Linked DNA regions of Homo sapiens: region 1 is linked to region 2. The links come from fine-mapping of genetic effects on gene expression. A gene starts in region 2. The other region holds a variant in brackets. All regions are shown on one strand. Distances are between the middles of the regions.

Region 1 (4,390 bases), 46 kb before region 2:
GGCTGAGGCAAGGAGAATCACTTGAACTGAGGAGGTGGAGGTTGTAGTGAGCTGAGGATTGCATCACTGCACGCCAGCCCGGGCGATGAGCAAGACTCCATTTCCAAAAAAAAAAAAAAAATTAGGAGAATGTGGTAGACATTTTCTCAAAAATAAATAAAGTGAACCTGTCATTTCAAGATAAATAACTGACAGTATTTGTTACCAATGATAAAAATTTGAACTTCTAAGCAAAAAACTAAAAGTCTGGACAATTTTTATTCTTCACTGTGAGCTTGAAAGCTTCCTGATATAGTCCCAAAATATTCTGAAGGCAACCAGTGTCGACATAAAAATATTATACGAGGCCAGGTGTGGTGGCTCACGCCTGTAATCCCAGCACTTTGGGAAGCCGAGACAGGAAGATCACTTGGGCCCAGGAGTTGGAAGCCAGCCTGGGCAAACAGCAATACTCCGTCTCTACAAAATAATTAATTACTAATTAATTTAAATTAGGCATGGTGGTATGCACCTGTAGTCCCAGCTACTCAAGAGGCCGAGGCAACAGGATTGCTTGAGCCCAGGAGGTAGAGGCTGCAGTAAGCCAAGATCACACCACTGGAATCCAGCCTGAGCGACAGAGCAAGACCCTGTCTCTTAAAGATACTGTGTGATACCAAAAGCACAAGCAACAAAATTGATAAATTGAATTACATCAAAATTTAAAATTTTGTGCATCAAAGGACACTATCAACAGAGCAGAAAGTCAAATCGTGAAATGGGAGAAAATATTTGCAAATCTTTTATCTGATAAGGGGTTAATATCCAGATTATATAAAGAACACCTACAACTTAACAAAAAAGATGACCCAATTTAAAAATGGGCAAAGTACTTAAATACGCACTTCTCCAAAGAAGATATACAAATAGCAAACACACAAGATGCTTAACACCATTAATCTTGGGGAAATGTAAATCCAAATCACAATACCACTTTACACCCATTAGGGTTGGCTATTATCTAAAAAACAAGTGAACAAGTATTGGCTGGCCAAGGATGTAGAGAAACTGAAACTTTCCTTTCTGAGACAGTGTCACTCCGTTGCCAGGGCTGGAGAGTGGTGGTGCAACCTCGGCTCACTGCAACCTCTGCCTCCTGGGTTCAAGCAATTCTCCTGCTTCAGCCTCCCAAGTAGCTAGGATTACAGGTGCCTACCACTACGTCCAGCTAACTTTTTGTATTTTTAGTAGAGACGGGGTTTCACCATGTTGGCCAGGCTGGTCTCGAACTCCTGACCTCGTGATCAGCCCACCTCAGCCTCCCAAAGTGCGTGAGCCACTGCCCCCAGCCAAGAAACCAAAACTCTTGTGCATTGCTGGTAGGAACAATGCAGTCACTGTGGAAAGCAGTTTGGTTGCTCCAAAAACAACAACAACAACAACAACAAAAATTATGAAACCACCCTATGATTCAGGAATCCCATTTCTCCATAGATCCCCAAAAGGTGAAAACAACCCAAATGTGCCAACAGCACATGAATGGATAAGCAAAATGTGAGAGATAAACACACACACACACACGAATATTATCCAGTCTTTAATCTGAAAGAAATTCTGACATGGATTAAGCTTGATGGCATTATGCAAAGTGAAATAAGCCAGACACAAAAAGAACGACTATTGTATGATTCCACTTATATGAGCTATCAAGAATAGTCAATTTAGAGTCGTCTGGAACTGTGGGGAGGAAGGTGAAGGGACTTATTCTTTAATGTGTACAATGTTTCAAGTTTGTGTAAATGAAAAGTTCTGCAGATGGATGATAGTGATGGTAACATACATCGTGAGTGTACTTACTGGCAATAAATTGTACACTTC[A/C]AATAGTTAAAATGGTAAGGTTTACATTAGGTATATTTCAATAGGTATTTCCCCACAAAGAAGATACACAAATGGCCAATAAGCATATGAAAAGATGCTCAGCATTATTATCTATTAGAGAAATGCAAATCAAAACCACCCATTTCACACCCACTAGGGTGGCTATAATCAAAAAGATGAATAATGAACGAGTGCTGGGTTGATGTGGGGAAACTGGTAATGTCATACATTACTGGTGGGAAAGTAAAATGGTGTAGTTGCTTTGGAAAGTACTTGGGCAGTTCCTCAGAAAGGTAAATGCAGATTTGTAATCCAACAATTCCATTCTATTAAATGAGTGAATTATGTATTTTAAAAGTATGCTATTACTTTTAAAAATGGTGAGGATAATTAAAAGCTATTTGCATGATTAGTTTTTTCCACCTTTCCCTATCCTATTTTAGAAAGGGGAATTTGAGGTTTAACAAGCAGAATTTTTAATTTTTAATTTCACAGAATTTTTGATATGCCTAATATTAATCCTTATTAATGTACAATTGCTTTTGGTTCCTAAAATTTATCTTTAAATTTTATGAGACTCTCCACATGCACTTCATACTTAAACATACCAGGGCAAGTTATACTGAAATAGGACGCTTATACTTTTCATTTCTTAAATTAATAATTTTTTGTGCTTTTAATAATCACCAATTCATAGCGTGAGTTCAGATTTCCATATGCACAGAGTCTTGTGGTGTGTTTTAATCTCATCTTTCCATTAACCATCTGACATGACATGTTTGCGGTCCAAAAAAAGCACATTAATGGGAACAGCCAGACAAGAGGTATGGGATCCCAGGTAATGGAAATTCTGAAGAGATTCAAAGACTCTATGGCACTAACTCATGAGACAGAAATTAAGCCCCATAAATTGACATGAATTATGAACACACTGTAGTCTTAACTTTCAAATAAATCAAGCAGTTACTCTAAATTAGATCAATACGATGCAATTCAAGTGATACTATTCCACATATATATATGGGGAGGGCATTCATAAAATGTGAAAGATACAGCTTTTTGATGGAGGACAACTATTTGATAAAAACAAAAACAGAAAATGCTTCCCTAAAAGTTATATAATTCAGGGGCCAGGCGCGGTGGCTCACGGATGTAATCCCAGCACTTTGGGAGGCCGAGGCGGGCTTATCACAAGGTCAAGAGACCAAGACCATCCTGGCCAACATGGTGAAATCCTGTCTCTACTAAAAATACAAAAATTAGCTGGGTGTGGTGGCACAAACCTGTATTCCCAGCTACTCGGGAGGCTGAGACAGGAGAATTGTTTGAACCCAGGAGGCGGAGGTTGCAGTGAGCCAAGATTGCAGCACCGCACTCCAGCCTGGGTGACACAGCGAGACTCCATCTCAAAAAAAAAAAAAAAAAAAAAGAAATTATATTCAGGCACAAAAAACAGGCCATGCGCAAATCAACTAAAAACTTGGCAACAAAAACAATTTCTTAGGAATGTACACTCACTGGATGAGTAGAAATGAGAACAAAAAAACCCTTGGCTTTCAATATGAAAATCAAATTATTCTAAAAAGATGCTCATAAGACATAAACACATTTTCAACTTCAGAACAAATTTCTCCACATAAAATCCCCTCCAATAAAATACATACTCAAAATTTAAATCTACTTTACTGAAATTAACTCAATAATGTACTGAAATTAATCACCATTAACTAAGTAGCTTCACCTCCCTTCACTTCCTTTTTCTTCTCCCCTTCCATTTTCCCATTTTTGCAGTTTCTCCTGTAGGAAAGTACAATTCATATCTCTAATAAATATATCCTGGTGCTAGATTTTACATTGACCTTTTTTCTCCATAGGAACTCACAAGTTCATATTCAAACATGTTTCTCTCACAATTCTCTAAAGGCTAAAGGTATTTTCCAGAGGCTTAAGGACAGAAAATCCATCTTTTCTTTTCCCAAGTGGTGCTACAACAATTTAGTGGCCAGCGGCCAACCACCTTAACGTACTGGTTCCTAACATTTCCAGTTCTACTAAGATTACTCTCTACTCAGCCTATCTGCATTGCACACAAAGTGTGAGGAACACTAAGAGCACAACAAAGCTCAGGAGAGTCCTACTACTATTAGCTACTCCAAAGGATAGCAAATACTGCACCATTTATAAACATCAAACGGGAATCTGAGAAGAATGAATAAATAAAATCTAATGGAGATGATCATTCATTAAAGGTGACAGGCTTAAAATACACTTAATGTTTAAAAGGCAGATATTTCAATCAGATGACTTAAAATGTCAAATAATTCAGTCTTAATTATATGACTGAGGCAAACAAAACAAGTATATTTAATCTGAATACTGAATTAAATAAGTGAAAGATCTGCAAAAGTAAGAAAACACTGAGTTGCTTACATAAAATTATGACATTTTTAAAAGGACTAATTTTAAAACACAAATTACTCTCTCTATAAATGGGGCACGAAACAAGAGATTCTTTTACATTATCATTCCACAT
Region 2 (4,390 bases):
TTAACAGTTTTACATTGTTCTAAATCAAGATGTTCTATATGAAACCCTAATGCGAAGGTAAAAATGACTTCCCCCGCCCAGAGGGTCCCATTTTTTAATGTAATAAATAGAAATACAACATTGAACACATCACACTGACGTTCTCAAAATGACTGGTGTATTTTAATAGAATACTAAGGAGACTCAGCTTGCAGGCATGACCATTAAATCAAGCACTGAGGCAGCAAAGGTTTTTTTCTTTCTAAAATTAGGCTAGTTGTTAAAAGGCTAGACTACAAATAAGCAAATCTTGTGAGAAATGAACACTTGCTAATAATAAAGCCAGAGAAATTATACAATTCTTGCTGAAAGCTACACTCATACTGGGCAGATAACCCACTTATTAACATTGAAACCATAGAAACCTACCCCTTTCCTGCTGCCCCAGCCCCCACCCAAAGACTACAAAAAGAAGTCATCAAAGATGCACTGTTGTCTACAAATAAACTTAGCCAGATTGTGTCTACCACACAAACTGCAAAACAATGACCTGGAATGTTCCTTCTGAACACAGCCCTAACTTTATAGCGTAAGTTTCAGATTCAGAACATTTGGAAACGAGCTGAATAAAATGCTGAGCATATGTAACAAGTCAGCTATCTTAGAAAGTCTACAAGTCAAAACTGTAGCATCTGGAATTTGTCAGATAATAACAGAGTCCTCCAGACGATAAATAGAAGTGACACTTTAAACACCTACATATGCAAATATGACCAAAAAAAGGCTGGACACACGACAATATGAGAAAATACCACCAAGACTCTGAAACAGAATCAAAGCCACAAAATTCTAGGAATAAGCCTATTTGTTATGGCCAAAAAGGGTCATAATGGAATAGGCATTCTTCCTTTCTCTGGCTCGTTAAGACTAATACATTCTCTAAGCGTGCCAAAGCCTAGCTATAAAGAAAATTTTAACATACACAGGTTTTTAAAATCCGTTACAGACCATGTATAAAGTAAGTAAGCGTATACGTTCTTTAAATGTAAATATATAAATTATTTAAATGACCAGGACTTCTACAATTTAGAATGAATTATTTAATTATCCCAAAATATACTTTTTTCCCTTTCCTGAGCAATTCTTAATAATGCACTGGTCTATAACGACAAATGCATGTTTTCAACTCACATTGTTTCTCCAGTCTTGGCTACATGACAAAGAAACTGATCCAGGACAGGACAAACTTCCTTTTTCCCCCTCTTCTCAAAATCTAGATGAAGGAAGAAAAAAAAACGTTATCAGTTTTCTCAAAAGCGCTCTAAAAACAAACTTTCCTCCTAGTCCTTTACCTTATTAAAAATCAATTAAATACAAAATTAAAAAAATAAGGCCTCTCAACCAAATTACCACCTCAATCCTCCAAGTTCTACTTCCAACATGTCACCCTCTTTACAGATAACAAGAATCCTCCTAAAGGGGGCACTCAACTTCACAAACCATTTTTAACGCAGTGCTTCTCGAAGTGTGGTCCGGGGGAACACCAGCATTATATTAAGCTGGGAATCCAGTGAAAATAAAAATCCCCAGGCCCCGACTCCCACCAATTGTTCATCTAAGTCCATAAATCTGCCTTTCTAAGAAGCACCAACTACCCCAAGTTGCCGTCCCCAAATGATTCTGAATGTCAAAGAATAATTCTCAAAACGCTGAAATCTCTCTACTCGAAGTTTGTAAGCCACTGTTCTCAAGCCTGTTGCGTGGAAGGCGTGCAATCAAGAACAGTGAAGGCAACCACCTCGAAATTAGGGCGCGGAAAGATGACTTCAAAAGCCCTGAAAAAGGCATACTGAGACAACTTAAAAGTTGCGATGCTACCCCCTACCCCCGCCCCCACCAACCGTTTACTTTTTCTCCCACCCCAACGCCTAGCGTACGGGTAGCCTGGTGGAGAAAAGAGGATATCTGGGAGGGAGGGGTCTGCGGGTCCGCCACTCGTCCCCTGAACGGGTGGGAGAAAGACTGGGGCCCCCGCAAGAGTTTCCCCGGCTCCCCTCCCCCAGCCCAGACGCCGGCGGCCGACACAAAGCCAGAGCGGGGCGGGAGAGAGCTGCCCACAGGGCTCCCCGCCCCTGGGGAGGTGGAGGGGGATGGGAGCCCGGGAAGCACTCTCCCCACGCCGCGCCCGGCCCCGGTCCTCGGAACCATCCGCCCTGAAAGGAGAGAAGAGCGAGCCGGAGAAGGTGAGGGGGAATGGAGAGGGGGCAGCTACCCCCACCTTTCAGCGCCTCCTGGAGCCTCTCGACGTCCATGGCTTCCCGGAGTCCCTCACAGCCTCCGCCTCCCTCCGCGGGTCTCTTGGGGACCGGAACGCCTCCCCCCACCCCCCCGACGCCCTCCCCCTCCCTCGCACACACTCCGGCACGCAGGCGACCGGGGGGGGGAAACGAAGGGAGCCGGGGGAAGCGTGCGAGAGAGCAAGACCGACAGAGCGAGCACCTCCCCAAGCCGCTACCACCAACCCTCCAACATGGCGCCCGGTACGTCACCGCGCGCACGCTCCCTGCCGCCGTCCTCGCTCCCGCCGCGCGCTCCGGCCCGGAACCCGAGAGCGCGTGCGCGGCCGAGGTGTGACGCTGGGGCCCAGTGGCGTCTGCGTCCCGGCGGCTTCCAGAGCCTCAGCCCCAGCCCCAGCCCCAGGCCCAGGCTCCGCGGAGCTGAAGACTGGACGGTCAGGCGAGAGGGTTGCAGGCGGACTCCTAGGCTTTGAATCCCTGCCATTTCCTCTCTGTGTGAACTTAAGCTACTTACTTCGCCTGTCTGAGCCTCATTTTCCCCATCTGTACAGTAAGGGCACTGGTACTGATGCCCTATGCAGTTGCTGTGAGAATTCAGTGTATACACTTCACGTTCAGAATGCGCCTAAAAAACGTAGAGCGAGGCCGGGCAGGGGGCTCAGGCCGGTGATCCCAACACTTTGGGAGGGAGGCCGAGGCGAGAGGATCGCTTGAGCCCAGGAGTTCGAGACCAGTCTGGGTAACAAAATGACCCCGCTCCCTCGCCCTTCTCTATATAAAAATAAATACAGGCCGGGCGCGGTGACTCAAGCCTGTAATCCCAGCACTTTGGGAGGCTGGGGCGGGCGGAGCACCTGAAGTCAGGAGTTGAAGACCAACCTGGCCAACATGGCGAAACCCCGTCTCTACTAAAAATACAAAATGTAGTCGGGCGTGGTCGCTCGTGCCTGTAATCCCAGTTACTCGGGAGGCTGAGGCACGAGAATCGCTTGAATCCAGGAGGCGGAGGTTGCAGTGAGCCGATATCGCGCCACTGCCTCCAGCCTAGGCGACAAAGCGAGACTGTTTCAAAAAAATAATAATAAAATTAACAATACATACATACACTAAGCATTGCTAATAATCCTAACAAGAATACCTCCCTGCTTAACCCAACGTTCGTTCGTCACTGGCCCACCTGTGGCAAGAAGTAATGTATACAGCAAAGTCATTAAGAGCTCAAGGTTTGGAATCAATATTCAAATCCCAACTCAACTACTTACTCCTTGTGTGGCCCTGAAGTAGTTACCTAAACTCAGGCAGCTTCAGGGTTCTTATTTATAAAATGAGGGTTGTAAAACGGCCACGAGGATTGAGTGAAATGGCAAATGTGAAACATTTGGCACAGTGCGTGAAACCTGGAACACTCAACGTGGCTGGGTTTTTATTACCACTGTTAGCATTATTACATGACATAATCTCCCAGGAGGTAGGAGAGGGCGGAAACCTCAGAAGTCCTCTGCAGCCCTGACATTTTACAAATGGGAAAGCTGTGTCACAGACAGCAAGTCTGGGGAGACAGAACTAGAACCCAGAACCCAAATCATCTGGCTCCCAGCCAGTGCGTGGACATTTTTATACTCATCTGTGAGCTTTTAAAAGAAAAGGTACTGCCCGGGCACGGTGGCTCACACCTGTATTCCCAACACTTCGGGAGTCTGAGGCAGGCGGATCACCTGAGGTCAGGAGTTTGATACCAGCCAGGCCAACATGGCAAAACCCTGTCTCTGCTAAAAATACAAAAAAAAAAAAATTAGCTGGGCTTGGTGGCGGGCACCTGTAATCGCAGCTACTCGGGAGGCTGAGGCAGGAGAATCCCTTGAACCCTGGAGGCTGAGGTTGCAGTGAGCCGAGATACTCCAGCCACTGTACTCCAGCCTGGGCACGACAGAATGGGACTCCGTCTCAAAAAAAAAAAAAAAAAAAAAAAAAAGAGAGAGAGAGAAAGAAAAGAAAAGGTACTGCGTTGTTCCACCTCCTCTTCCCAAAACCCAGCATAGCACAAAGTCATGGAAGGAAGGAGGGGAGAGAAGGACCAAGGGAGGGAAGGAAGGTTATTGTTTGGTCTAAGAAGA

Evidence for each region. PIP is the estimated chance that this variant, and not a neighbour inherited with it, causes the effect.
Region 1: its variant is the best candidate, but not a certain one, in a credible set for the expression of PPP4R2 in fibroblasts (GTEx, PIP 0.86).

The regions. Positions count from the first base shown.
Region 1 is chr3:73,041,258-73,045,647 of GRCh38, reverse strand. All of the region lies in intron 2 of PPP4R2 (protein phosphatase 4 regulatory subunit 2), which reads right to left. Among named protein-coding and RNA genes, the nearest start is that of EBLN2, 18 kb to the left of the region's middle. The variant A/C (reference allele first, on the strand shown) is at 1,858.
Region 2 is chr3:72,994,939-72,999,328 of GRCh38, reverse strand. PPP4R2 (protein phosphatase 4 regulatory subunit 2) reads right to left here and starts at 2,518. Exons shown (of 9, transcript NM_174907.4): 1 at 2,258-2,518; 2 at 1,171-1,252. The coding sequence starts at 2,291. It overlaps LOC124909395 (a long non-coding RNA gene), which reads left to right and starts at 2,138. Exons shown (of 2, transcript XR_007095961.1): 1 at 2,138-2,222. RefSeq lists enhancers at 1,534-1,583, 2,844-2,893 and a silencer at 2,034-2,663.